Linked DNA regions of Homo sapiens. The protein of the gene in region 1 interacts with the protein of each later gene in a pairwise test. Each region holds a gene or a part of one and is shown in the gene's direction. Other genes may lie near its edges. The genes, in order: RASSF5, RAP2B, HIPK1, RAP1B and RASSF4.

What was found.
Region 2: the proteins of RASSF5 (region 1) and RAP2B interact in binary tests that used the Homo sapiens proteins (3 or more experiments, as listed by UniProt).
Region 3: the proteins of RASSF5 (region 1) and HIPK1 interact in a two-hybrid assay, tested with the Homo sapiens proteins (one study listed by BioGRID).
Region 4: the proteins of RASSF5 (region 1) and RAP1B interact in binary tests that used the Homo sapiens proteins (3 or more experiments, as listed by UniProt).
Region 5: the proteins of RASSF5 (region 1) and RASSF4 interact in a two-hybrid assay, tested with the Homo sapiens proteins (one study listed by IntAct).

What each region holds. Positions count from the first base shown.
Region 1 is NC_000001.11:206,512,741-206,519,352, forward strand, and holds part of RASSF5 (ras association domain-containing protein 5), read left to right. Parts: intron 1-6,612. UniProt on the Homo sapiens protein: Potential tumor suppressor. Seems to be involved in lymphocyte adhesion by linking RAP1A activation upon T-cell receptor or chemokine stimulation to integrin activation.
Region 2 is NC_000003.12:153,161,095-153,165,025, forward strand, and holds the start of RAP2B (ras-related protein Rap-2b), read left to right. Parts: upstream 1-1,131; 5' UTR 1,132-1,599; coding exon 1,600-2,151; 3' UTR 2,152-3,931. UniProt on the Homo sapiens protein: Small GTP-binding protein which cycles between a GDP-bound inactive and a GTP-bound active form. Involved in EGFR and CHRM3 signaling pathways through stimulation of PLCE1.
Region 3 is NC_000001.11:113,969,517-113,976,128, forward strand, and holds part of HIPK1 (homeodomain-interacting protein kinase 1), read left to right. Parts: intron 1-439; coding exon 440-681; intron 682-2,307; coding exon 2,308-2,438; coding exon of another isoform or gene 2,439-2,522; exon of another isoform or gene 2,523-2,542; intron 2,543-3,507; coding exon 3,508-3,996; 3' UTR 3,997-6,612.
Region 4 is NC_000012.12:68,654,180-68,660,791, forward strand, and holds part of RAP1B (ras-related protein Rap-1b isoform 1 precursor), read left to right. Parts: coding exon 1-73; intron 74-2,126; coding exon 2,127-2,270; intron 2,271-2,921; coding exon 2,922-3,008; 3' UTR 3,009-3,038; intron 3,039-5,100; 3' UTR 5,101-6,612. UniProt on the Homo sapiens protein: GTP-binding protein that possesses intrinsic GTPase activity. Contributes to the polarizing activity of KRIT1 and CDH5 in the establishment and maintenance of correct endothelial cell polarity and vascular lumen.
Region 5 is NC_000010.11:44,989,619-44,995,525, forward strand, and holds part of RASSF4 (ras association domain-containing protein 4), read left to right. Parts: intron 1-51; coding exon 52-103; intron 104-1,329; coding exon 1,330-1,451; intron 1,452-2,286; coding exon 2,287-2,384; intron 2,385-3,650; coding exon 3,651-3,711; 3' UTR 3,712-4,417; coding exon of another isoform or gene 4,418-4,553; 3' UTR 4,554-5,186; coding exon of another isoform or gene 5,187-5,323; 3' UTR 5,324-5,907. Other genes in the region: uncharacterized protein LOC124902530, read left to right, coding at 4,418-4,553, 5,187-5,323. UniProt on the Homo sapiens protein: Potential tumor suppressor. May act as a KRAS effector protein. May promote apoptosis and cell cycle arrest.

The sequences.
Region 1 (6,612 bases):
CCTGTGAAGTGTGAGCAGGTCAGGGGCCAGAGGCTCAGGGGAAGCTGCCGCAAGGCCGAACCCAGGTCTGAGAATGGGCATAAGAAGAATTCTTTGCATGTCAGTAGTGCCTTTTCTCTGAAGAGCCCAAAGTGTTTTCATGCCCGCTGCTACATTCATGCTCAAAATAGTTTCATGAGGTCAGAATACAGGGATACAGGGATGCTTAGCTCAGCTGAAAGGGAATTACCTGGCCAGGAGTCACCTGCTGGCTTTGCCAGGGACAGTGGTAAAGTTAGAACCTCTCGGGCGGGCCTCATTCTGACAGGTCTTCAAGGCTTTGGTGCTGTCTCAGGCCCTCAAGCCATTTCCCCCGCTTTGGGCTTCAGAGTCAGCACCTCTGTGTGAGAGGCTGCTACCTGAGGTGGGATGGCCATGGGTGGGTCCCAGCTCCTGCACCCCAGTGTTCTCCCACAGGGTTCTCTCTGGCTCCCACACCCACCCCTCATTCCTCAGTTTCCCCATGGAGGGCAGCTGCTGGCATTCTTGCTCTGCCCAGGCTTACTATGAAGGCTGCTGAGGAACCTGTAAACACATCTCTGGCCTCACCAGAGGCCCTTCCTGTTCGCATTCCTCAGATGGCAAGGTGAGTATTCTTGGGTGGGTGAGTATTTGTGGGTGTGCAAAGCATGCAAGCTCCCCACCCCCAGCCCTTCTGAGGGAACCATGTTCCTGGGGCTCAGTCAGCACCAGCTGGTATGATTTCCTTCTCACAAGCTTGCAGACCTGGGTCTGTGCTGGTGGCAGGATGCTTTCTGCCTCCCTGCAGGGTCTCGCTCTGTCTCTGCTGACTCTGGGCACCTGCCCCTCCCGCAGGGCTCTGTTCTGACTCTCCATGGCTGGGTGGGGAAGGGCTGGCGGCAGCTGGGAAGGCCGGGCCTGACTGGGGAGATGGTTTTGCATTTAGTCATTTTCAGTTTTTTTCCAAGACTTTTGGCAAGCCTTTCTCCACATGTTCCGGGCTGGATCTCAGGGTCGGAAGGGGAACAGAGCCAGTTTTGGGGCTTAGGGGAAACAGCGAGGAGGCTGAGGTGATGACGTTAGACCAGGCAGAAGGCTGGGTTCCCTGGGGGCACTGGTTTAAGTGGAATAAAGTCGGGGCTTGGGAGCAGTCATGGGTTGCCCCACCCCAAGGTCAAGACTATCTTGACTCACACCTGGGGAAGTGACTTTTGAGTTTTTTCTGAAGCACTCATAACTATGCTGAGGAGACTTGGGCAGAGCCTGGTAGACCCCAAGAACTCTCCATGGTGTGGTCTTTGGCTGAAGTGGCCCACAAGGCCATGCCGGGCCTGTTCTAGCATGCCTGTGGTTCCTAGAGTACACAAAGGTTTGTGAGAGATGTACCCATTGGGAAATCTTTGAGGTTTGATTCTCTTTTTTTACCCTTTTTGGAGAGGAAGGAGGAAGGGCAGTGGGGTCCCTCCTGGCATCATAGCATGTGTCCAGCCTCCCAGGGGAGAATGCCCCACTTTGGCTGAGGAGTCTGGTGACCCCTGGGAATTGTAGCAGGTTCTAGATTTTCTTTCGGATTTTCCTACCTATAACTACTGCCCTGGCCCCATTTGAGGGCATGGGGCAGAGGGATCGGGGGGAATGCAAGATGTGCATGCTGAGGGTCTATAAGAGGGGTGGTGTTGGAAAGAGTAGTCTGTTCATTTTTGTGTGGCACTGAGCAGGTGAGTGGATGGCTGAGTATGACACTTACCTGTGACAGGTTTATTCTTCAGTGGAGGGCCTATGTGCCACCTTCTGCTCCCCATTCCTGTTTTTTGAACAAACATATTTCCAGGGTGGGGCAGGTCTTATTTAGACATCTGCAATGGCCATTGGCTGGGGCTGCTAGAAAATTAAAACTTGGCTTACATAGACCTTTAAGAAATCAGACTCCAGGTTCATGAAAGTCAGGCCAAAAAGAAGAGTGATGTTCTTATTTTTTTAAAATCCTTTTATGTTTTGTTTCTACTGGATGCTAGAGCTGGAAAAGAATTATCATTGTGTTTGCTGAAGATACAAGCTGGCATTCTGTGAACCTGCTAGGATGAGTATATTCACATGGAATAGGAAGAGTTGAGAATGGCAAAGAAACTGTGGGAGCAGAAATAACTTTTGTTGCACTTGGCTATCACTAAGGCCGTTTGATGTGCACTGCCTCTGTCAGGATTGCAATTCTGTTTCGTCGGTAGAACTGATGTAATCAGGGCCATCTCATAGATGAGGAAACACAGCATTCAGGGAAGTCAAATGACTTCGCTAAGATAACCCAGATCATTAATAGCAAAGCCAGCACCAGAACCCAGCATGGCATTTTGCCTTAGGCTAATATCATTGATCACGCAAGTTAGTTGAGTTTACTTATCCATCTGCTGCCCTTCTGCTGGTGAATGCTGAAATGTCCAAAAAAGGAGGTACAGGAAAAAAAGGGAGGTGAGCCCTATACAAGCTAGAGAATCAGCCAGGGCTGGGTAATTGAGAGTTGGCTCCACTTAAGCCAATTTTCAACAATCAGTTTCTAAATTGATTGTCACCATGTGCAAATCATGAGATCTTTAGAAAAAGGGTGAAGTTTTTCCAAATCCTAAGATGAAAGAAATAAGTGTGTCTCTCCCCGCTCCCACCTCACCCCGTAGGTGTTCAGGGTGTGTAGGGGGTGGGCCTGGAAATGCAGGTGGAGGATCTTTTTCTGTTCCAGTCCTCCTTCTTGCCATGGCCCAGCTCTCAGAGTTCATGACACAGCACTAGTCAGGAACCAAAGTGAAATTAACAGACTGGATCCTAGAGGGGACAGCTAGGGTGAAGAAGACATGGATAGGGACTGGACAATAATCTGAAGCTGCCTAATGGACCTCTGGCTCTAATCTCAGGCAGTGATGTGGCCCCATGAGAAAAAATACATCTGGGGAAACCTCCCACCCCCAAGCCAGCTCTGACTCTCTATATTTCTCCAGGTTCATCTCTTATTTGGGAACAGGTACCATTGCTTACTTTTCTTGCTGATTTGCAGGAGGCTGTTTTTTCTATCCAAGTTGAATGGAAGTTGGAGACTTGGTGGTCTCTGCTGAAAGAATTATGTGGATTATTTTTTGCATCTGAAGAAAGTATTAACCTCCCCCACCTCAAACAAAACCTCAGAGATGCCTTATTATTCAACTGGAACAGATTCCAGCTGTAACATGAGAGTTTTGAGAGAAAGCGTTGAGCATATTGTCCATGAATGTCTACCCTAGTGATGAGTGTTTTTTAAAAGCCATCTGGAGGTACCTTTATATAAAATAGGGTGATAATATATTGTACCCCAGCAAGTAAGATGGTGAAGGTTGTTGCTTCAAATTATGCTGGGCCATGGCTGAACTTGCCTCCAGCATGGAGGTCATTGAGTCATTGCTTAGATGTCAGAGACAGCAAGAGGTCATTGCAGGCATTTCCCTGTCTCTAGGTAGTGCTCCTCCCAGACCATCATTACAGTAGAAAAATCTATCTAGTTTTCCAAAGGTCAGGAATGAAGATCCTAGAGCTTCTGAAAGCCCCATCTCCAGACTCTGCCAGTTCTTTCCTGTTGTCTTTCCCAATGGCTTAACCTGTCAAAGAACAGCTCAGTGATGAGGAGAAAAGAGAAGTGAGGTCAGCATATTCTGCAGCCCAAACGGTGCATTCGGAAGGGATTTCCCCGCATTACACGTGACTTTTTTTTTTTTGAGATGGAGTCTCGTTCTGTCGCCCAGACTGGAGTGCAGTGGTGCAATCTCGGCTGACCGCAACCTCTGCCTCCTGGGTTCAAGTGATTCTCCTGCCTCAGCCTCTTGAGTAGCTGGGACTACAGGTGCGTGCCACCACACCCGGATAATTTTTTTGTATTTTTAGTAGAGATGGGGATTCACCGTGTTAGCCAGGATGGTCTCAATCTCCTGACCTTGTGATCCGCCTGCCTCGGCCTCCCAAAGCGCTGGGATTACGGGCATCAGCCACCACGCCTGGCCGTGACTCATATTTTAAAGTTCCCCCAGCAGCCCTGTGTTCTCTTCTTTGAGGGCGGGGATGGGAATGAGCCCTTGCCTGTGCTCAGCCAGGCAGGACTTCCTAGGCCCTCTTGGAGATCTTGGGTGCAAGGACCAGCAGGGCAAGGAACTTGGCCCCCACCCCTTGTTTGATGGTCCCAAGTGTCATTTCAGGACCCGGACTTGCTTATGCCCTTCTTCTGGTACAGAGGTTGCTTGGTAAACTAGAGAGGGCCACAACAAAGGCCATGGGCAGCTCCCTTCTCCCTGAGGAAGCATTAGGGAGAAAGAATCAGTCCGCAACTGAGGAAGGGTGGCATCTGAGCACAGACGTATAAGTGCATCTTCCACCAGAGATTCTGCAAGTGTGTGAGTCCTCTGAGGTGGATTTCCTCTGGTTAAGGGATAGGTGTCCCTGCTGGGCATGGAGGCTTCACCCCTGTAATCCCAGCACTTTGGGAGACTGAGGCAGGATGATCTCTTGAGCCCAGGAGTTCGAGACCAGCCTGGGGAACATGGTGAGACCCCCACCTCTACAAAAAATATAAAAATTAGCTGGGTGTGGTGGTGCCCACCTGTAGTCCCAGCTACATGCTGGGGGGTGGGAGAATCACTTGAGCCCAGGAGGTCGAGGCTGCAGTGAGCTATGATTGGACCATTGCACTCCAACCTGGATGACAGAGCAAGATCCTGTCTCAAAAAAAAAGAAAAAAGAACAAGTGTCCCTCCTTCATGTTAAGCTGGTCCCCGCTGGTGGTTGGCAGGTGAGTCCTGTCATCTCTGGGCAGCCTGGGAGGGACACCCCTCTCTAGTGGCTTTTCTGGAAGGCTCTGCTGCCTGTCTGGTGCCAGTCTTCTGTCTTGGACTGGGCAACAGGGCCTCCCAGAACTTTTCTACTAGGGCTTGGCAGCTTCTGGGAGTCAGAGTGAGAGAACACCTGTGAGTACTGTTTTGGGGCAAGAGAACAATATTTCTGCCCTTTTGTGACAGACTGATCTTTTCTCACCACCCCACACCCATAGGGTCACATCCGCTTCTGCTCAGGTATCTAGTCTCAGAAAAATGAATGGCCTGACCCTCTTAAAGCAACACCACCTCCTTATGGGCCCCTCCCCCACCCTGGGCTTAGCATGGGAGGATGTGAATTAGCCCCAGTTTGTCCCTTAGGAGCCTGTACAGCTGGTGAAGCATTAGTAATCCACCATCCCCAAAGAAATCCATTAACGAGCTCCTGGGCTGGGCACGTGGTGTGAGGTAACCGATCACTTCTGTCGTCTGAAACTTTGGAGACATTGATTTTCAGACTCACAGGCGCGACTGAGAAGTGAGGCTCGGGGCAGGCTCTTCCCTGCAGCCTGTTTGGTGGGGGCATTTTTATCTTATCAAGCTAAAAGCCCCAGGAATAGAAAGTTTTCCACTGGGGGAGGTGGAGGGGAAAGGACCTCAGTGCGGAGACAGAAGGCATCGTCAGTCGTTGAGGGTACCAGAGCCTGAGGGTCCAGGTGACTGTCCAGGTCATGCGAGGCCCAGGGCCCTCCCCGGAGCCCTCCCCCACCCGGCACTCCACCCCTGACGCCAAGCCTGGAGAAAAGCTATTGATCTCTGGCGCTGAGATGACCGAGGGCCAGGAGGAGAAGGCAACCGCTGCCTGCTTTGGGACAGTCACTGCTCAGCTCCAGCGGCTCTTCTGCAGGCTCCCGAAGAGCCGCTCGGTCTCCAAAAAGCACCAGATCCTGCAGAGGTTCCGCAACGGGGCCCGGAGGGCTCGGGGTAGGTCTAAGCCAATCTGACTGGGGGAGCTTGGGTTCTGAGGCCTCTGCTACTGGCTTCTCCCATAGAAAAGGAGTACAGGATCTTTCTGGCAGTCTGCTGTTTAGTGCTGAGCTCAGCACCACTCCTTGGCCCTCCTGACTCCGCAAGGACAAAGGCACAGGTGCTGTCACCTTGCCTGGTATGGGTTGAACAGCCAGATCCAAAGGACATGGTCTGCCTGTTTTGGAGGCCTTGAGTGGGTAGTGGATTTTAACAACTTTTTATTGGCTGAGAATTAGGGCCAAGCGGTCGTCTTAATCAGGGTCCCTGAGCTGGCAGAATATGGGTATCTCGGATGGCCACTGTTTTCCATTCTGCCTATCCTGTAGCCCTTCAGACCCTGCCAAGTTGCTGAGTCAGCCTTCTGAGGACCTGGGAGCAGTGATGTTTCCCAGGCAAAGGCTTCTCACCTGCAGAGTTAGTGAAGGTGCAGGCTGCATGGGGCTGAAGGCTGCTGGGTGGAGCACAGCTGACAGGAGTCCCGGCCTCGGGAAGTGGCCAGACCACTGATTCCTCTCCTGAGCACTAATTAGGGCAAGAACAGTCCTCGCCTGAAGAAGGATAACTGGACGGCATAGCGGTGAGTGAAAGATAAGAGGCAGAGACAACAGCAATCCAAATCATCATAGGATCTTAGGTCATCCCATGCCCCTTTTCCAATGAAAGGAAGCTGGGACCAACAAAAGGCCCTGCTGGTGGCAGTGCCAGGACTATGAACCCTGGGCACCTGCCTTCCAGCCTTGGATTCCTTCCGCTGTCTCATGCT
Region 2 (3,931 bases), on another chromosome or scaffold:
AGAACTATATTTAGTTCTGAGCTCTCAGCCTAAATGCCTCTTATTTTTTCACTTTTACTTCAAAACGCCAGGGTTGGGGAAGTGGGAGGCAGAGGGTGGGGGAGCAACGGAGAAAGAACAGCTGTGCCTCCGCCTCTCCGCTCAATCTCTATAAATAACCAATCGCGAGCGGAGGCTACTTTTTAGCCAATGAAGCGCCCCAAACTGATAAAGCCTTGGCGGCAGCCAATGAACAACACTTAGGGGTGTCAGACTCGCGCCCCGAGACCAATGAGTGCAGAGTCTGGGAGAGGTAATTTGAGCTAGAGTGTGGGTGTGTGGTGCAAAAGCTTCCTACTTCCAAGCCCAAAAACCTGCTCTGCGACTGAGCATGCCCTGAACTAACTGCGGGCGCCCTGAGACTTCTGGATTGGGATGTAATCCGGTCTCCGGGTTTTGACCGCACTCGAGCGGGGAGGTGGGTACGACCCGCGGGACCCTGCCCCGAGAGAGCTGCAGGTACCAGAAGCTACCCCTTTCCTAGTCGGAACAGTATCTCAGACTTGGAGTACCTCCTGTTTTCTTTGTGCAAGGCTGCAGTGCACAGAGTCGGTCAGAGAAGACAGAGTAGCGTTTCTGTGGCGAACGGTTTAGAAAAATCTATGGGGCAGGTTTGCTCCGCCGGCTGCTCGTGCATTCCACGGCACCCACAGGACTTCGGGTTTCCGGCCCCCAGACCCACGCCCGCCCGGGGCTGAGTGAATGGCGTCCTTGGGCCTTTGATAACGGGAGTTGGCAAGACCACAGCCTACTCCATCCCTGAGGCGGCCCGCCGCGCCCACGTGCTTCTCGCAGAGCCGCCGCCCTTGTCCACCACTCCCACAGCTGTAAAATAAAGCGGCCTGCATGCTTCCTACAGCGCTTTCCTCGCTCCCATATACGCACACACACCCCATCTTCCAGCCAGTTCCTAACTCGCGCCACTCCCCAAATCGGACTCAAATCCGGAGCCCCGCCCACTGCCCCGCCCCCTCCCGGCCCCGCGGAAAACCAGGAGCGGCCGCTTGGGCAAGGCGCGGCCGGAACGCACTGGGCATGCTCGCCGGGGAGGGGCGGGCCGGGCTGCGCGCGGCGAGTAGGAAGCCCTCGCCCAGTAGAGGCTGTGGGAGAGAGCGCGATGGGCCGCGGCGGTGGGCGCACGTTCCGCGGGGACTCATGCCACGCGCGTCCCGGCCCGACGCGCAATTAGCAGCCACCTCCGCAGCCCGCCGCCACCGCCTCCCTGCCCTCCCGGGCTGCCGCAGCTAGGAGCTCCAGCCGTCGCCTCGCGCAGGCTGCGGGCATTGTCCTCTCGGTTCGCCGCCCGGGCTGCTGCTGCCGCCGCGGACTGCTGCGGGGCCCGGACCCGCACCCCAGGGATACGCTGCCGCCGCCGCCGGCCGGCCCGGCGCCCGGCCTCCGTTCGGTGGTTTCCGCCCTGCGTTCTCTGGGTTGCTCTCTCCTGGGTTTTTCCTGCGTAGCTGAGGAAGGGGAAGAGAAGTCCAGCCGCCAAGCCCAGCCTTCCCCGGCGCGCAGCCCCGACGGGGCCGCGGCAGGCGCGGCGAGAGCGCTGACGGAGCCATGAGAGAGTACAAAGTGGTGGTGCTGGGCTCGGGCGGCGTGGGCAAGTCCGCGCTCACCGTGCAGTTCGTGACGGGCTCCTTCATCGAGAAGTACGACCCGACCATCGAAGACTTTTACCGCAAGGAGATTGAGGTGGACTCGTCGCCGTCGGTGCTGGAGATCCTGGATACGGCGGGCACCGAGCAGTTCGCGTCCATGCGGGACCTGTACATCAAGAACGGCCAGGGCTTCATCCTGGTCTACAGCCTCGTCAACCAGCAGAGCTTCCAGGACATCAAGCCCATGCGGGACCAGATCATCCGCGTGAAGCGGTACGAGCGCGTGCCCATGATCCTGGTGGGCAACAAGGTGGACCTGGAGGGTGAGCGCGAGGTCTCGTACGGGGAGGGCAAGGCCCTGGCTGAGGAGTGGAGCTGCCCCTTCATGGAGACGTCGGCCAAAAACAAAGCCTCGGTAGACGAGCTATTTGCCGAGATCGTGCGGCAGATGAACTACGCGGCGCAGCCCAACGGCGATGAGGGCTGCTGCTCGGCCTGCGTGATCCTCTGAGGCGGCCACCGCGCGCCGGCCGCGCTCTGCGCACAAAAGCCAAACGCATCCGACTCTCTAAATGTGATTTATTTCTTGCTTTGAGATTGGAGACCACTTTGCATTGGCCAGGGTGTCTTGGGAGCCCGGCTGGCCTCCGCGGCCGGCGTCCCCTGCCTCCACCCTGTGCCCGAGGGGGTGTCCGGTCCTGCCCATCCGATACTCTGGTGGAAATGTGGCTCTTTGCAGCATGTACGTTTCTCCCTGATTTTGGTTGATGCATATTTCCCCGTTTAAGTAGCCGTTAGGGCGCAGTATCGGCAGCTTGACACCCACCAAGCAAAAGTTTCAGCCTGGAAAAAAAATGGGGGGGAAGGGTGGATGAAAAGGAGGGAGAGAAGGTGGAAATGGTTTTTTTTTTTTTTTTTCTATTTTCTTTCTTTTTTTTTTTTTTTTTTTTTGGTCAACAGCCGTTTTTCTAGTTCCAAGTTTTAAATACATGGAAGGAAGTCCGGGAGAACCATATGAAGGAGCAGGAGGAGAGGAAGAAACTTTTTTTCCTTCTTTTCCAGGAGTAGCTGGAAATTAAGATCGGGTTCCTTTTCTGCCAGCTTGGAAGGGCAACCCCATGACTGATTGCGATTCTGAGGATGTCTATGCAAAGTTGGATTCTTGTTACAGTGTATCCAATCTGAAGTATTGCACATCTGAACTGGGACTGTTAACACTGATGCCAATACAGTGTGGGGTGCCAGAAAGTGTCTGCTGATATTTGTGGAAAAAAAATCTATTTTGTTTACCTACTGTATCAAAGGGGAGTCTGGGGGAGAATGGTAGTATTTTTTTTTTTTATCAGCTGTGAAAAAAATGTTACAGATCTGCACATTTTCGTGTGTACTATGGTGTGTGTGTGTATGTGTGTGGTGTGTGTGTGTTTTAAGTTTAGCCTTTTGTTTTTGTTTTTTGGTTGGCAGTAACCGATTTTAATGACTAGCTTTTAAAAATACAGTACAAAGACTTTGTAAATGTGATTCAGGGCCCCCAGCACCCCTGTGTCTGCAGAGTGCCTTCAAAACTCAGCTGTTCCAGCCGGTGCCAACCTGTGAACTTCCCACCATATCCCAGAATCTGCTATTCCCCAAACCACTTCCCAGTTTCCTTTCAGTAATCTTTCTGAAGGAGCCAGGACAATAGGGCCTGTTGTTTAGTGAATTTCTTTATTATTTTCAGCCTTTAAAATGTAATTTCCATCTCTTGCAATGAATTTGTTTCCCTTTTTTTTGCTTCATTTTGTTTAAATTTTCAGGTATTTAGCTCCCCTTTCATATTATTTTTAAATTTTTTAATTACCTGTTGTAGGGTGTTCCTCCAGAAGCAAAGAGCAAAATTTTACTGTTGTGATGTACCAATTCTAACTAATTGTAATTTTTAATTTCATGCGTTTAATCATTGTCTCTTCATTTTAAGACTTTTAATACAAATGTCATTTTTAAAGAAACAAACCCAAAACTATTGTTTGTGTTTCTGTGTTTCATATTCAGTGATTTAATACAGTATCATGGCTGAGGTGGATGGGGCAGGTGCATGATACTCTTCAGAGCTATTTGTGAAATTTTAAAGACAGAAGTGTCTCAGTGACAAGTTGGATGACACTACTCCCAACTTTTTAAATTTGGAGAAAACCATCAAGGTCGAGGAAGCCCTGGGTATGGCCATTACCATCTGATTAGAAGATGAACAGGTATTTTGAATCTGATCTGACATGGAACAGTTTACCTCATTGTAGGTAGGGAACAAGAGA
Region 3 (6,612 bases), about 93 Mb from region 1:
AAGTTTACTGCTGCTAATATTACTATTATTATTACCATCTTTATCATCATTGTTATCATGGGAGAACCAGAGACAGATCATCTAAGAAACATTGCTTAAAAGGGTGGTTGAAGCTCGGCATGGTGGCTCATGCCTGCAATCCTAGCACTTTGGGAGGCCAAAGCAGGAAGATCACTTGAGCCCAGGAATTTGAGACCAGCCTGCGAAACATAGTGACATCTCATCACTACAAAAGATAAAAACAGTTGGGCATGGTGGTACACACCTGTAGTCCCAGCTACTCGGGAGGCTAAGATGGGAGGATAGCTTGAGCCCAGGAGGTTGAGGTCGCAGCGAGCTGTGATCACTCCACTGCACTCCAGCCTGGGTGACAGAACAAGACGCTGTCACACACACAAAAAAGAACAATTCAATTTTCATGTATTTTTCTTTTCCTCAGCTCTGGACTGAAGCCAAGGTCTAATGTCATCAGTTATGTCACTGTCAATGATTCTCCAGACTCTGACTCTTCTTTGAGCAGCCCTTATTCCACTGATACCCTGAGTGCTCTCCGAGGCAATAGTGGATCCGTTTTGGAGGGGCCTGGCAGAGTTGTGGCAGATGGCACTGGCACCCGCACTATCATTGTGCCTCCACTGAAAACTCAGCTTGGTGACTGCACTGTAGCAACCCAGGCCTCAGGTCAGTGTTATCTTCACAGCTTGAGTTGAATTCTCCTTTGATGTGTGAATGCTTAAATATTTTGCCATAATCCACTTATATCAGTGGTAGAGACCAGTGGTGTAGACATTCTTAAAGAGACCTTAATTCAGAAATCAGTTCCCTGCACAATGTGAAATTATTTTTGGCCATCACTTTATCTTCCTGTGTTTATTTTGCTTGGATTAATATACAAATGAGATTGTAGTCTCAGAAACACATTCAGTGCTGATGGGAGAAAGCAGACAAGACGTGTGATATTGCAAGAAGAATTAGCAGGCAATTAGGTTTGCCACAGATGATTTGAATTTGGCAATTGAGATGTAGACAGGACTTGATAATATTGAAAATGACTGCAAAAGTGTTTTGGAAAACAGTTATATTCTTTAGATTTTTTTCTCACCCAGTGTCATAGCAGTGATGCTTTTGATGGTTTTATTACCAACCCAATTACTTCCATCATCTTTGCCCTGTTAGATACTGGACTTAAGCTCCCTGGTTTAGTTATTGTGTTAGTTGGGTAATAGCAGTTGCAGTAACAAATCCTAGATTTTTGTAGCATAACATAGTAGAATTTTACTTCTCTCTCATATAATTTCTTGGTACAAGTGTTTGATTCCTGAGCATCCAGTCAGAAGGAGAAAGAAAGTGTGAAGGAGGCACACACATGTCTTAACCTCTTTAGGCTGGAAATAAGTGGAAATAGTGAATGCTTCTCACATGGCCCCACCTAGATGCAAGTGAGCCCAGGCAATGTAGTCTTGTTAAGGCAGCTGCTTTTCAGTGACAACTTCATACCAAGGAAGGGGTTGGTGAAGTTTAGGTGTCAACATAAACCTGGGCCATACTTGTATAAATTATGTTTTATTATGTATTATCTTACTGCCATAGACATAAACAGGGTTGTAATTTGAGGGTATTGTGTTATGCCTCTGTGTGATTCTTTTCAGAAGTAGACAGTTGTCCCATTGCAGACAAGAGAGAGAGCTTCCTGATGCCAGGCTACTGAATAGAATTATTAGTACCTCCGTGTGCTCTTGGGTCCAGAGAATATAGGCTATCACATGAGACACTGAATAAATGCTCTGGTTTTCCTAATGGGAACACAGAAGCAAGCAAAATTTCACATTCAGCTGTCCTGTAATTTCTAAGAATTTGAAGACAGTAAGTGTCCAACAAGATAGAATTTTGCCTTCTTTTAAACCCTCTTGCCACTTTAATATCCTAAGAATTACCAATAGCTTTCTCAGCTTCACATTATCATTTCTGTGCTTGTTTAATCCCTTCCTACATAAAACTATAAACTCTTGGAGAGAGGGATGGTGTCTTAGCATATTTGTATTTCCAGTCGTTCCTTGTATATAACAAGAGATTATAGTTAAAATATTTATAATATTTATTTAAGTGAACATTTTGAGGATCCTATGTGGAGATTTGTGCCAAGACAGAAAAGAAATGGGTGATAACAGGTTATTTTCTTCTGATGTAAATAGAATTGAGACCTTAATGCTTGCAAACTACATACAGATGTGGACTAATTAATATGATGCCATCTGAGGTTAGCTCAGTGATGTCTACTCATAACTATTAAGCCTGGTGCTTTTTTAGGTCTCCTGAGCAATAAGACTAAGCCAGTCGCTTCAGTGAGTGGGCAGTCATCTGGATGCTGTATCACCCCCACAGGGTATCGAGCTCAACGCGGGGGGACCAGTGCAGCACAACCACTCAATCTTAGCCAGGTAAGTGCTATGGGCTACTGCCTTCTGTTTGGGCCCTGCACTGTTGTTACTTTCTGGAGAACCCTGCTTCTGGCTGGATGCTGAATAAAGCCAAATGAAGCCCCTTTTGTGTCAAACAATTTTGTGTTCTATGGCTTACGTCGTACCGCATATGCTGTGTCTCTTCATTCACTCTGTAAGTGTGTTCAGGATGTACATTCTAGGTTTTCCATCAGACCTCCCTAAGTCTACCCTGGAAGGTTAGAGAAACGTCTGGGATTTAGAAAGAGCCTGGGGTGCTTTAACCATGTCTGTGATAGGCATATGCTTTGAGACCAGATTCTCTTTATCCCCCAGGCCATAAGTAAGCTGATCCTTACATTGTTTACTTGAGTCAAGAGATTGTGAAAAGCTCATTGGCCACCAAATTCAACTGGTTCTAGGTCCTACTTGTTGCTGGAGTCTGCGATTTGGGACTTCCCCACTCTCCGAACACCCCCAGCCCCAACCTACCCTTCTGCTTCTCTCATTACTTTATTCTATTTGTGTTCACTCTTAGAAGCTAAAATTCGAGTGCTTGTATGATGTCCACCAGTAGTGAGAAAGTGTCAGTATGAGGGTATGTGAGAGAGAGCACATGCAAGTGAAAATGTAAGTTTGAGTTAGTGCATGTATTTTAGTTTCCACATTTCAAGAGGGGTATGAAGAACTTAGAGGACGAAAACAAAAGAAAGCAATGGTAAGAAATAAAGGCTAGGAAAAATTCAAATTTACTGACGCCAGAATAGGGTGAGTTGAGTCACCAGTTATTAACTTGCAGGAGTGGGGAACCCTATGATCTCTTGATTCTCCCTCTTCCTGTCATACTTACAAGCAAAATGCTGTTACCTGAGCCAGATTAGGATCTATCTTGCTAAGAGGCAGAAGGAGGGGTGGCTGATTTCTGACAGCATTCAATGCCAGTGTGGGAGATTATGTGCTATACCCATTCGAAAACAGTACAAGTCAGAACCTGAGCTCTTAACTTGGCCTTTGGTGCCCTGAGCTGGAGTGACCTCAGGATTCCTCACTTCTTCCTTCTTTCTTCCAGAACCAGCAGTCATCGGCGGCTCCAACCTCACAGGAGAGAAGCAGCAACCCAGCCCCCCGCAGGCAGCAGGCGTTTGTGGCCCCTCTCTCCCAAGCCCCCTACACCTTCCAGCATGGCAGCCCGCTACACTCGACAGGGCACCCACACCTTGCCCCGGCCCCTGCTCACCTGCCAAGCCAGGCTCATCTGTATACGTATGCTGCCCCGACTTCTGCTGCTGCACTGGGCTCAACCAGCTCCATTGCTCATCTTTTCTCCCCACAGGGTTCCTCAAGGCATGCTGCAGCCTATACCACTCACCCTAGCACTTTGGTGCACCAGGTCCCTGTCAGTGTTGGGCCCAGCCTCCTCACTTCTGCCAGCGTGGCCCCTGCTCAGTACCAACACCAGTTTGCCACCCAATCCTACATTGGGTCTTCCCGAGGCTCAACAATTTACACTGGATACCCGCTGAGTCCTACCAAGATCAGCCAGTATTCCTACTTATAGTTGGTGAGCATGAGGGAGGAGGAATCATGGCTACCTTCTCCTGGCCCTGCGTTCTTAATATTGGGCTATGGAGAGATCCTCCTTTACCCTCTTGAAATTTCTTAGCCAGCAACTTGTTCTGCAGGGGCCCACTGAAGCAGAAGGTTTTTCTCTGGGGGAACCTGTCTCAGTGTTGACTGCATTGTTGTAGTCTTCCCAAAGTTTGCCCTATTTTTAAATTCATTATTTTTGTGACAGTAATTTTGGTACTTGGAAGAGTTCAGATGCCCATCTTCTGCAGTTACCAAGGAAGAGAGATTGTTCTGAAGTTACCCTCTGAAAAATATTTTGTCTCTCTGACTTGATTTCTATAAATGCTTTTAAAAACAAGTGAAGCCCCTCTTTATTTCATTTTGTGTTATTGTGATTGCTGGTCAGGAAAAATGCTGATAGAAGGAGTTGAAATCTGATGACAAAAAAAGAAAAATTACTTTTTGTTTGTTTATAAACTCAGACTTGCCTATTTTATTTTAAAAGCGGCTTACACAATCTCCCTTTTGTTTATTGGACATTTAAACTTACAGAGTTTCAGTTTTGTTTTAATGTCATATTATACTTAATGGGCAATTGTTATTTTTGCAAAACTGGTTACGTATTACTCTGTGTTACTATTGAGATTCTCTCAATTGCTCCTGTGTTTGTTATAAAGTAGTGTTTAAAAGGCAGCTCACCATTTGCTGGTAACTTAATGTGAGAGAATCCATATCTGCGTGAAAACACCAAGTATTCTTTTTAAATGAAGCACCATGAATTCTTTTTTAAATTATTTTTTAAAAGTCTTTCTCTCTCTGATTCAGCTTAAATTTTTTTATCGAAAAAGCCATTAAGGTGGTTATTATTACATGGTGGTGGTGGTTTTATTATATGCAAAATCTCTGTCTATTATGAGATACTGGCATTGATGAGCTTTGCCTAAAGATTAGTATGAATTTTCAGTAATACACCTCTGTTTTGCTCATCTCTCCCTTCTGTTTTATGTGATTTGTTTGGGGAGAAAGCTAAAAAAACCTGAAACCAGATAAGAACATTTCTTGTGTATAGCTTTTATACTTCAAAGTAGCTTCCTTTGTATGCCAGCAGCAAATTGAATGCTCTCTTATTAAGACTTATATAATAAGTGCATGTAGGAATTGCAAAAAATATTTTAAAAATTTATTACTGAATTTAAAAATATTTTAGAAGTTTTGTAATGGTGGTGTTTTAATATTTTACATAATTAAATATGTACATATTGATTAGAAAAATATAACAAGCAATTTTTCCTGCTAACCCAAAATGTTATTTGTAATCAAATGTGTAGTGATTACACTTGAATTGTGTACTTAGTGTGTATGTGATCCTCCAGTGTTATCCCGGAGATGGATTGATGTCTCCATTGTATTTAAACCAAAATGAACTGATACTTGTTGGAATGTATGTGAACTAATTGCAATTATATTAGAGCATATTACTGTAGTGCTGAATGAGCAGGGGCATTGCCTGCAAGGAGAGGAGACCCTTGGAATTGTTTTGCACAGGTGTGTCTGGTGAGGAGTTTTTCAGTGTGTGTCTCTTCCTTCCCTTTCTTCCTCCTTCCCTTATTGTAGTGCCTTATATGATAATGTAGTGGTTAATAGAGTTTACAGTGAGCTTGCCTTAGGATGGACCAGCAAGCCCCCGTGGACCCTAAGTTGTTCACCGGGATTTATCAGAACAGGATTAGTAGCTGTATTGTGTAATGCATTGTTCTCAGTTTCCCTGCCAACATTGAAAAATAAAAACAGCAGCTTTTCTCCTTTACCACCACCTCTACCCCTTTCCATTTTGGATTCTCGGCTGAGTTCTCACAGAAGCATTTTCCCCATGTGGCTCTCTCACTGTGCGTTGCTACCTTGCTTCTGTGAGAATTCAGGAAGCAGGTGAGAGGAGTCAAGCCAATATTAAATATGCATTCTTTTAAAGTATGTGCAATCACTTTTAGAATGAATTTTTTTTTCCTTTTCCCATGTGGCAGTCCTTCCTGCACATAGTTGACATTCCTAGTAAAATATTTGCTTGTTGAAAAAAACATGTTAACAGATGTGTTTATACCAAAGAGCCTGTTGTATTGCTTACCATGTCCCCATACTATGAGGAGAAGTTTTGTGGTGCCGCTGGTGACAAGGAACTCACAGAAAGGTTTCTTAGCTGGTGAAGAATATAGAGAAGGAACCAAAGCCTGTTGAGTCATTGAGGCTTTTGAGGTTTCTTTTTTAACAGCTTGTATAGTCTTGGGGCCCTTCAAGCTGTGAAATTGTCCTTGTACTCTCAGCTCCTGCATGGATCTGGGTCAAGTAGAAGGTACTGGGGATGGGGACATTCCTGCCCATAAAGGATTTGGGGAAAGAAGATTAATCCTAAAATACAGGTGTGTTCCATCTGAATTGAAAATGATATATTTGAGATATAATTTTAGGACTGGTTCTGTGTAGATAGAGATGGTGTCAAGGAGGTGCAGGATGGAGATGGGAGATTTCATGGAGCCTGGTCAGCCAGCTCTGTACCAGGTTGAACACCGAGGAGCTGTCAAAGTATTTGGAGTTTCTTCATTGTAAGGAG
Region 4 (6,612 bases), on another chromosome or scaffold:
CACAGCACAGTCCACATTTAACGATTTACAAGACCTGAGAGAACAGATTCTTCGAGTTAAAGACACTGATGATGTAAGCTGACTTCCAAATAAATATATTTTATTTCAAAACCCTGATTATAATTGTTTAAGTCTAAATTTAAATTCATTTTAAAGCTTGTGTATTTTGGTTGGGGGGGGGGTGTTGGTTTTTTTAAACTTTTTCCTTGAAAGGCAAAAATACCCATACATGTTTTCAAATATATATCATGTGGAAAGTGAGAAATTTCCTCCTTTGCCATTATCCTGTGAAAATTAAATGTTACACCCTTCCTTTTTTTTTTTTCCTTTGAGATGGAGTCTTGCACTGTTGCCCAGGCTGAAGTGCTGTGGTGCGATAGCTGTACCTCCCGGGTTCACGCCATTCTCCTGCCTCAGCCTCCCGGGTAGCTGGGACTACAGGCGCCTGCCACCATGCCCAGCTAGTTTTTTGTATTTTTAGTAGAGACAGGGTTTCACCATGTTAGCCAGGATGGTCTCGATCTCCTGACCTTGTGATCCGCCTGCCTCAGCCTCCCAAAGTGCTGGGATTTTAAAGGCAAGAAATACATTAGATTCTAACATTATTAATTTAGGTGCCCCTTCAGAGTCTACCATAATGGAGTTTAATTCCTCATCACACTAAATATAGCAGTGGTTCTCAAAATTGATTTTGCATCAGAATCACCTGTAGGACCAGTTAAAACAGATTGCTGGGCTGAGATCTCAGAGCTTCTGATTCAGTAGGTCAGCAGTAGGACCCAGGAATTTGCATTTCTAACAAGTTTCGAAGTGGTGTTGGTTTTGCTGATCTGCATACTGTAAGAACCAGGCTGGGCATGGTGGCTCACACCTCTAATCCCAGCACTTTGGGAGGCCAAGGCGGGTAGATCCCCTGAGCTCAGGAGTTCAAGACCTCCCTGGGCAACATAGCAAAACCCTGCCTTTACCAGAAATTTAAAAAAAAAAAAATTAGCCAGCATGGTGGCGCGTGCCTGTGGTCTCAGCTATTTGGGAGGCTGAGGTGGGAGGATCACTTAAGCCTGGGAGGTGGAGGTTGGCAGTGAGCTGAGATCACATCACTGCACTCCATCTAGGGTGACATAGTGAGACCCTGTCTCAAAATAAATACATAAATAAGACTCATTGTACTGCAGTTTAATTTTAGCAAATATTGTGAGAGCTGGGAGACACCCATGGTAAATGCTTTTATTTTCTGGACTTCTGAAACAAGGGAATTTGGGGGGACCCTACATAATTACAGCAACCTCAGGGAACATTTTTTAATTTGTAAATCCATTTAATAAGTGGCTTGATTTTTAGTAAATTTTGATTGGCTTTTTTTTTTTTTTTTTTGAGACGGAGTCTCACCCTGTCGCCCAGGCTGGAGTGCAATGGCACGATCTCAGCTCACTGCAACCTCTGCCTCCCAAGTTCAAGCAATTCTCCTGTGTCAGCCTCCCAAGTAGCTGGAATTACAGGCGTGTGTCACCATACCCAGCTAATTTTTGTGTTTTTAGTAGAAACAGGGTTTCGCCATGTTGGCCAGGCTGGTCTCCAACTCCTGACCTCAGGTGATCCACCCGCCTCGGCCTCCCAAAGTGCTGGGATTACAGGCGTGAGCCACTGTGCCTGGCCTTGATTGACTTTTTTAATACAAGACTATGAGAAACTAAAAATTCTATTTTGGGAGCCTTCCGTCCATTATGATAAAATTTTAAGGTTTTTTCCCCCCATCTCTCATAACAGGATCATAGCTTGTTTTCTCAAAAGTTTATGTAAAAGTGTCTTATTTATGTCTACATTGACTAGGTTGTGTTCATTTTACTTAACATATGAGAGTTTTCTTTCTCTCTTTTCTTCCCTTTGGAGTTATCGTTTGCATCTCCATGAAAAGAGAAGGCAGTGGAGATAATTGACATCAAAGTTAATACTTATGTTTATGTTACAGATTAAATTGTTAAGGCTGTAAATTTTATTATACATTATTTAATATTTTTTGTGGCATATGAAAAGTAATTCTTAGATTTGACTCTTAGAATTCTTTTGATTTGAATTCATATAGCATATTTACTTATTTATTTTTACTCTCACAAATGTATTTTTAGGTTCCAATGATTCTTGTTGGTAATAAGTGTGACTTGGAAGATGAAAGAGTTGTAGGGAAGGAACAAGGTCAAAATCTAGCAAGACAATGGAACAACTGTGCATTCTTAGAATCTTCTGCAAAATCAAAAATAAATGTTAATGAGGTATGGTCAAATATACTTAAAATGGGTCTTCATTTGAAGTACAACATTGAAGATGAATGGAAAATGTCTTAACCCCAAGTTAATATGTACTCAGGGTAATATGTTGATGTTACAGGCAAAAAAAAAAAACCCTCATGTTAAATGTATCTATGTAGTAAATAAACAATACTATTTCAGTCTCTATTAAATACTTGTACATTGATATTTACCATGAAAAAGGAAGACTGGACAGAAAATACATGGATAGGGAAGACAGATTAAGACTTCAGGTATATGAAGGATGTTATATGAAAAATAGAGTAAAATTCCGAAAAGTATGCATGGTTCTTGAAAGGCTCCAAGTCATGTTGTAGAGCAAAAACTTACAGTTTTTAAAAGGATTTTTTCTTTGTGTGATGGTAAATGTTCTAATTGAACTAAGTTAAGATCTCTGCAGCTCCTTCAACTAAGTATTTTAAGGAGCACAATATTAACACTCCCCAAAAATTTGAGCTTGGCAGTTATAACACCTGATTTTATTCTCATTCCTTAGCTGAACAATTCTGGGCATTAATTTATATCCATGGAAATTTCTGTTTTTTCAATTTACTTTTTTCATTGGGGGGGATAGGTGTTCCTCCTGTAAATTAAAACAAATTATTGTATTTGCAGATCTTTTATGACCTAGTGCGGCAAATTAACAGAAAAACTCCAGTGCCTGGGAAGGCTCGCAAAAAGTCATCATGTCAGCTGCTTTAATATACTAAATGCATTGTAGCTCTGAGCCAGGTATGTTCACTTATCTTTCCTCTAACTTTTAATCACTCAACCTTATTAAGGGCACTCTGTCATGAAAGCAAGTATAGACTTCTTTTTGTTGGTTCTGAAAAATAAATGGTTTATTTTTATAAGATATCCATGAGTTAGTATGCTATCTTATTAATTATTTACTTATCATCATGAGTAAAGTATTTCACATAAGTATTCTTTTTTTGAGATGGAGTTTCACTCTGTCACCCAGGCTGGAGTGCAGTGGCGCAATATCAGCTCCCTGCAACCTCCGCCTCCCAGGTTCAAGCAATGCTTCTGCCTCAGCCTCCCGAGTAGCTGGGATTACAGGCACGTGCCACCACGCCCGGCTAGTTTTTTTGTATTTTTAGTAGAGATGGTGTTTCACCATTGTTGGCCAGGATGGTCTCAATCTCTTGACCTCGTGATCTGCCCACCTCGGCCTCCCAAAGTGCTGAGATTACAGGCGTGAGCCACCACTCCCAGCCAACCCCGTCCCTAATTTAAAACACACACACACACACACACACACACACACACACACACACACACACACGTGCGCGCGTGCGCGTGAGCCACCGCTCCCAGCCAACCGTCCCTAATTTAAAACACACACACACACACACACCCCTGACATGTTCATCATGTGCCAGTCACACACACACACACACCCCTGACATGTTCATCATGTGCCACTTTTTTTTTTTTCCTTCAACTTTTAAGTTCCAGGATACATGTGCAGGATGTGCAGGTTTGTTACATAGGTAAAGGTGTACCATGGGGTTTGCTGCACAGATCTTGCATCGGTACCTGGCACATAGTTAACACTCAACTATTAGCTGCTGCTGTTTGCCAATGATAATGGTTTCCTCTTCAGCTGTCATTAAACTGTTTATTGTTAAACTGTTAATTTATTCTTAAGAACCTTTGACATTCCTGACTCTTATTTCTTCCTATGTTAATTGACTCAGTGCTGCCATAGCACTTTGATTCTGCATCTTTTCAGAGTTTTTATTCCTGCCTTCCATCTAGGGCTTTCTGTTTAGTGGTATATCCTCTCATTCTAATATCCTATAATTCCTGACCACATGCCCATTCTTAGCAGCACACATGTGCTTGAGCTCACACACTTCCATCTGTCCTTTTTAATTTGCAACAGTCTGCCAGGATTTAGAAAACTTGATTGCAAACCTCATTCAGACTCAGAATGAGGACCTAAAGTTCTAGGCATTTGTGAAAATTATTTCAACAGCCACATATGTATTAACAACTCTTCTGGAGCTTGTAACAAGTCTGATCACCAGAAAAATATAATAGGGAACATTTTTTTAGCCGAGGCATGTATGCAGAAAACTATTCAAAGTACATATTTAACAATTCTAAGTTTACTTTTTAAAATCTTTAATTACATGTGATTTTAGTGTAATACCACCTTTTTCTGACATCAGTCTTAATAGAATGTTTAAATATGGAATTAGAAATTATATAACGTGATTGTAAATCTGTAAAACACCATCATGAAATAAATTCTATTTGTCTGCTCTGAACGAGCTTTTTAGCCACTTTCATTGAAAGAGTGAGGAAGAACTTGATTATCTGATACTAGAAACCTTGGTTAGATGTGCATTCTATACTTATGATCTAATTCTAGGAGTACATTACGATTGTGTAAACACAGGATCACCCAGTTTGTTAATATTGCTATCTGACTTTTCAATCCTAATTCTAATAAGGTTGACTTGACTAACAATTTTAATGTGATTTTTTTCCTTTTTAATCCTTGGAAGGTAATGCACAAAAATTTGCACAAAGGTACTTTCCCTTTCTGTTCCTAAGATTTTCATTTAACTGACTTTCAAGAGGGCAGCAGAATAGACTTCATCTTTTTGGAATGAAAAGGTCTGCCGTGAATTGTGGTATGTTGCCACTAATGTAATGCCTAGAACAAGAGCCTAGATTATATTCATTTCTAACACTTTTAAGACTGTTTTCTTAACTGTTTGCTTTTGGGTCTTTACTTTTTCTAGCCCATGTTTTTAATTAATTTTTTTCCTTTTGACAGGTCTGAAGAACTGTTGCCCAATTCAACAGTGCCAGCATTCCAACTTTGTTAAACCTACCAACATCTTAAATGGACTTTCCTGTGGTGGTACCCTTTAAGAGGCGGATGAAAGCTACTATATCAGTTTGCACATTCTAATCACTTTCCAGTATCACAAGAGAGATTTTTACTTATATAATAGTCCTAGAGTTTGCAGCTGGTAAAACCAGAGGCTACATCCAGTATTACTGCTAAGAGACATTCTTCATCCACCAATGTTGTACATGTATGAAAATGGTGTACTGTATACTTTAACATGCCCCATACTTTGTATTGGAGAGTACAATAATGTAAATCCTAAAAGCACCACTATTTTAGCATAATAAAAGAAAGTCCAAAGAGCTCCTATATAGACTACTCCAGATAACTTCGCTTCTTTGATACTTGTAGCTTATTGTAATTTTTTTTAAGAAATTCAAGGTCATTATTATTGTACAAAATAAGCGCTTTGATTAACACAGCTATATAGTTTTTTTAATTTTTAAAAAACCTGTGGAGACGGTGATCTTGTCTTTAAAACATGATAGTCCTTTCAGTATAATGTCTTAGATTAAAGACGTTGCCTTTAATATCTGTTGGGAAGGAAATGTCCAGACTTTTCAAATCTCTTATTATATGTTTCCTTTTTTTGTTTACATAGGGAACAATGTTTATAGTCGTGTGTACAGTGGGGGTCTACAACAAGAAGTGTATATTTTCAAACAATTTTTTAATGATTTAACAATTTTTGTAAATCATTTTCAGGCTTCTGCAGCTGTAGATTCTCACTGTGAATCCCTTGCTTGCTCATGCATAAGTGTATTTGCAATACCAAATATACAGGTTTAGTATTTTTGCCTGTTAGTGATTGTTTCACATGTGTAACGTTTTGGTTGAGATGTTAAATGGTGGACGAGTACTGTGGATGTGAATGTGGGAAGTAATTTTAATCATATGTAATTGGTCACAAGGCCTAATTTGCAGTAACTATTGCTGTTTTATTTAACAATGCCTTGTTGCTTTGTATGCATTAATGTTTGGATGTAAAGATTGTGTGTCTATCCAACAGGGAGCCACAGTATTTAAATTGACCAACCTAATGTTACAACTACTTTGAGGTGGCCAAATGTAAACTAAAAGCCTTAATTAAAGTGGTGCAATTTTGTATAACTTAGCATCAGTAGTTCAATAAATTTGGATTGCCATGCAAGGGCTTGCATTATAATTACTTGCCACTTGAATGTGTTTTGTGTAATGTTTTAACAGTGCTAGTAAATAAATACGGGTTTACCCTGGTTTTAATTGTAATAGGTGCATTTTACACAGCATGGTTTCATAATTTAACATCTGGGCAAGCCAGACTCATTAATTACAGGAATAAGGAAGTAGCGAGTTTTCTGGTATTGTTTGAATATCCACATAACCACCTTTTGAACTTTTCCTTGAGAAATAATTTTGTAAATCAAGCAGTATTACTTACGAATAAATGCCTTT
Region 5 (5,907 bases), on another chromosome or scaffold:
CTCTCCCATCTCCAAGCACCGTGATCTGACTTCCTGTGACTGCCTGTGCAGGTGGAAGATGGCCCCAGTGAGTTCGCACTCTACATCGTTCACGAGTCTGGGGGTAAGTACCTGCCCCACTTCTGGATCGTAAAAGCAAAAGGTCTCTACCTGTTCAGCAAGCCCCCTCCCCACCAACCACTGACTGTACTCCCTTCCAGATGGGCTCCGTGCTGGCTTGCCTAGTGGGCTAGGGCACACTGTGCCTCCCAGCATGAACATTTCTCCCCCACCCAAACCCAGGCACACTATGGAAGCCTTGAGGAAAAGAAAACATACTTTTGGCTTCGAATTTAAAGCACATTAAAATGTCCTTGGATTTTCTAGGTCGCTCAGTACATTAAGTTTAATTCTTTCAGGATTCTGAAGGAGAATCCCACCAAGCTATAGGAAGCCTCCCTCTCCGCCTCTTCCAGAGAAATGGATGGGTGGGTACCTAGCTCCTTGGCGCCGAGTCAGGAAGGGTGGGGTGCGTGTCGCAGTGCATCAGGCCCTGGCCCTCCCGTCTCAGCTTTCCTTTCTCCCACCCCTCAGATCTTGTTTCTCTTCAAGCTGCACCTTTGCTGAATGACACTGTAGGGGAGGAAAATTATCTTCTCTTTCTACCCATTTAGGTTCACTGGCTGGGGCCCTGTATTTAGATTAACAAAAGACAGATTAAGGAGAAGAACAAACAGAAGTTTGTTAACACTTGCATCATGCATGCCCTTTGGAATATCCAGGGATGAATGGTCAGAATTTGGGCTTAAATAGCATATTCACAAAAGAGCAGTAAGTTTTTAGAGAAGTGACAAGACAGAGGAGAAGGGCCTGAGTTTCTGGGGAGGCGAAGGGTGGGAAGGTCACCGCACGGGGAGCTGCGGGAAGGGAAGGGCTTCAGCGGGACGTGCTGTGCAGGTTCCTCTGGTGCCCTCTCCAGGCTGAGGAGGGGCTCGGGTTGTCTCTGGTGATTAACTCCATCATTGCCTAGAGAGGGACGGGGGCACACCTTGACAAATTTATGTCCTGCTTTTTGGCAAATAGGGGAGGGCAAAGAGCCTCACTTGTATCTTCTTCTTCTCAATTGCCAGCCGCTCCACTTAATCCTTATGCCAAAGTGGCAGATCTGGGGGCCCTGTTCTGCCTCCCTTCTGCATGAGCAGGAATCTCTCAGGGCAGCGCTGTTAGCGAGGTCTGTGTTCTTAGGGTTCCCTGCGCCCCTAGACGCACATTTTCTATCAGTTCCTAATCTGGAACAGACAGAGGTGATCCTAATCTCCCGTGATTTTTGTAAACCACCTTCTTTTTCAGAGCGGACAAAATTAAAAGACTGCGAGTACCCGCTGATTTCCAGAATCCTGCATGGGCCATGTGAGAAGATCGCCAGGATCTTCCTGATGGAAGCTGACTTGGGCGTGGAAGTCCCCCATGAAGTGAGTGGGGGCCAAGGCTGGGGAGGCCTGCTCTAGGGTGAGGGGTTCTTGGGTGACGGGGCCTCCCAAGGACTCCTGGCCAGAGCCCTGTCAGTTGATGTCTCCAGGAGCTCCACACTCTCCCAAAGGGCTCCCAGCCTAGCACAGGGAGGCGCCAGCCCTCCCTCTCCCATCAGTGACCGCCAGCACCAGCAGCTTAGGGGAAAGAAGAATTTGGGTCCTATAAAACCATGGCCTGTCCTTTTCCTCTAGGGAAGTAAAGTCTTTTCCTTCATTGGAATGTATTTTGTTGTCATTATGTGAGAGACCTATGCAAAGGCTTTTTAACTAGGCCCTACCTCGCACCTGTGGAAAACAGGGAGATATTTAAGTCTTACCAACAGCCTGAGTTCTGACCAGACAGTGAGTGCATTTCCAAACTCCTCTGCATAGAAGATGCTTACAGGGTTTGAACCTCAAGTAGGAGGCCTAGTGACCCCGTATCCCTCAGGCTGCTGCAATTGCATTCCATTGTTAGAAACAATGGTGCTCCCACCTCCCTACCCCCTAGCCCAGAGGGCACCCAATGTGACAATGCTGCTGTACTGAATGCTCTTCCTAATATTCAGTTTAATATTTCCTCCCAGGGATAACAGTTGCCTTTGAGATAGTAATAGGCTCCCGTCCTGGCATCTGTACACAACACAGCAGTGTGGGGGTGGGGTGGGAAAAGCGGCAGCTCCTTCTGTGGATACAAGATGTTGGCTGGATGGGCCACTATGGAAGCCTTGAGGAAAAGAAAACATACTTTTGGCTTCGAATTTAAAGCACATTAAAATGTTCTTGGATTTTCTAGGTCGCTCAGTACATTAAGTTTGAAATGCCGGTGCTGGACAGTTTTGTTGAAAAATTAAAAGAAGAGGAAGAAAGAGAAATAATCAAACTGACCATGAAGTAAGCAGCACTTAAACAGACAGTCATGGGTCCTGAACATCAGGGCAGGTCTGCAAAGCACAGCACCAGTGCCGGCTGGGAGGTCTCTCTCCTCCATGGGCACCAGTACCCTGGTACGGGAAGGCCTGCTAACCCTAGCTCCCCAGCATCACCCTCTGGCCCCCTGCTCGGTATTGCCACCACGCTGGGGTGACAGCTTGCCAAAACAGTGGGACACAGCCCCGATCACCCATCCAGTCTTGGCATCCTCACCAGCGCAGGCATGAGCTGCAGAACACCTGGCAGGAAAGTCAGGCAGGAACCCAAGTGGGCGCTGGGTCAAGCTTCTGAGTTCTGCTGGTGATGTGGCTCCAAGGAGCAGGCATGCTGAGGCAGACTTGGCCTGATTAGGGCCTTTTGTCCTAGTGGGAATTCTGAGCCTTCCCCAAAGTGGCAGATGCTGGAACTCCCAGCCTCAGCCGATGTTTTCAGGTGCAGAGGGCTAGTTCAATGAAAAGGTGAGCAGGTCTCACCTGCCAGCTCCTGGGGACACCACGCCAGGGTCCGGATGCATGAGTTAGCCAGGCTGTAGTCCCAATGACGTCTCCCCCTCAGCAAAGTGAAGTGTGGTCCAGGACTTGTGGAGGGCACCCCACCAGGGCTGGTGGGGAGGCAGCTAGGAAGGAAAGGGCAGGAGCTCACTGAGAGGGCCTGGGGTGTGTGGGGAAAGGATGGATGTTAGCCTCTGGTTGAATGACCCGTGGAAAGCCACATCCTCCACAGGCTCCTGTCTGTGCAGCCAGACCCCAAACAGGCAGAGGAGACCAAAGTCAGAGGGAATCTTCCATTCTGCAGTCAGTCCTGACCCCGTAAGATTTGAGAGCTGAAAGGGATCTGGGGGGCAACTAGTGGGTCCACTCAACGTACAGAGTGGACGCTGAGGCCCAGCACAAGGAAGGTTGCCGCATAGGTTATGGCAGAATCTGGGCTGAAACATGGGCTTCCCGATCTCTGCTCTACCGCCCTGTCCACTCCAGTGTGCTGTTGTCTGTATTAGAGTCTGCAATAGAAATGACAACACTCTGCTCTGATGCTCTGTGCAGTCCACAGCCTGGTTTGACTGCACCTCATGAGGCGCAGGCCACAGCCTTCCCCCTCCTTGGCAGAGGAGAGATGAGGCTGCTGCAGGGATCTCCTGAGCTGGCCATCTGCAGGTCCCTTGCTCTGCTGCCCACCTCCCTGCCCTGTCTGGCCTCAGTGAGTCCTCTTGGCGATGTCTCCCTCCAGGTTCCAAGCCCTGCGTCTGACGATGCTGCAGCGCCTGGAGCAGCTGGTGGAGGCCAAGTAACTGGCCAACACCTGCCTCTTCCAAAGTCCCCAGCAGTGGCAGGTGTACACTGAGCCCTGGTTGCTGGCCCCGGCCGGTCACATTGACTGATGGCCACCGCCTGACGAATCGAGTGCCTGTGTGTCTACCTCTCTGAAGCCTGAGCACCATGATTCCCACAGCCAGCTCTTGGCTCCAAGATGAGCACCCACAGGAAGCCGACCCAGGCCTGAGGGGCCAGGAACTTGCTGGGTCAGATCTGTGTGGCCAGCCCTGTCCACACCATGCCTCTCCTGCACTGGAGAGCAGTGCTGGCCCAGCCCCTGCGGCTTAGGCTTCATCTGCTTGCACATTGCCTGTCCCAGAGCCCCTGTGGGTCCACAAGCCCCTGTCCTCTTCCTTCATATGAGATTCTTGTCTGCCCTCATATCACGCTGCCCCACAGGAATGCTGCTGGGAAAAGCAGGGCCTGCCAGCAGGTATGAGATCTAGCCTGCTTTCAGCCATCACCTTGCCACAGTGTCCCCGGCTTCTAAGCCTCCAATATCACCCTGTGAGCCTCGCACAGCTCAGCCCCAACACAGAGGTGAGACCAGGAATAAGGCCACAAGTATCTCACTTTCTCTGCAGAAATCAATCTTTACTTCATCAGAGAGACCTAAAGCGATTCTTACAAGGAGCTTGCTGCAAGAAACACGGTCATTCAATCACATTGAGGAGGGTCCACATGGCATTGAGAGGGTGCTGCCCGCTCAATGCCCAGCAGCAGCTCTGGAAGGCAGTGCTCAGCCCCATCACCACTGTCCCGTGGATGCCTGTGTACCTCTTGCCTTTTCTGGGCTTGCGTTTCTCTCCTCTAGTGGGTGGGGATGACTTTCAATGACTTTCAATACTTCCCCTGAAGGAAGAATGATAAGGAGAAATGTCTGTTTTGAGGAAAGGGCTTTGAATTCCCCAGATACTGAACAATTTGTGTTTGTGACTGATGGAGAATTTCAGGAATGAATGAGAAAGCCTTTGCGAAACTATGCAACAGTTTACATCAGTCATGTGAAGTATTTGTCTAAAACAGAGCAAACTGAAGACCAAATTATTCTCCTGTTGAGGTCCGTGGATGGCAGATTTAAAGGGAAGAACCACAAAGGCTTGCAAAGATAGGAGAGGCTCCATCTCTAATGCATGTAGAAGCTCCTTACGGGTGCCCATCAAGAGCATAGCTTGGAAGCCACCATGCTGTGCGGAACTGCGTCAGGGCAAATGTCACAGCAGGATTTCCCCAACCCAGCTCCATCATCACAGACACAGAGAGCTGCAGGGGAGGCCTGCCCACTGTTTTGTCGACTCTGCCCTCCTCTGGCAGCATAGATCCTTAGGTGCTCAATAAAGGTGTGCTGTATTGAACTGAAGAAGTGAGAACCAAGCTTTTTTTTTTTTTTTTGCTTTCTGTGCATCCACCCTGACCCCCGGCTCTAACTTCTGAAACTCTTATCCTAAAGGATGTGTGGCCATGTTTGGCAGAAGAGCCACAACTCGCTGCTCTAGGAGCCGACATGACTCCTTCATTTCTGTGCATGCCCTGGGGACTAGGGTGGAGCCTGAGGAGAGGCTGCCATGGAACACGCAGGCGTCACTGGTGGGAGCCTAGAGGTGACCTGGATGATGAGCAATAGAGTCACCCCGAGTCACAGAATCTTAGCATCAGGAGGGCCCCAAGAATCTTCCAGGCCAGGGGCTCAGGTGGGATGGAAGCAGGGCCTAGGAGAGGGTACAAAACAAATCAAACAGGAGCTCCCAGGTAATTGTACTCCCAAGCTATTATTTACAATCTCAGGTGGAGGACAGCTCCTGTCCCATTGTTCAGCTGTAACTGAGTGACTGCCTTGTGCCAGGCCTGTGCTCAGCCCTGGAGGCACAAAGATGGAGCCAGTCTGTCCTGTGTCTAGGGGTCTTCTCATCAGGAGAAGAAGGCCAGACACTGGAAGGGTCAAGAGATCAGCTGAGCAACGAACCGGCAAAGCTCCTGGGAGTGAGGTGGAGGCCAAGGCAGAGTTGGCTAAGAAGTGCATGTGGCGTCACAGGCCAAGATGCACCTGCCAGCTAGGAGCAGGCCAGGTCCTGGCACACAGGAAGCCAGTGGAGCAGGAGACCCTCCCTAAGTACCAGCCTGTTTGGTTGGTTGGTTTGCTTTTGAAAGTTATTACAATATTATTTAAGGCC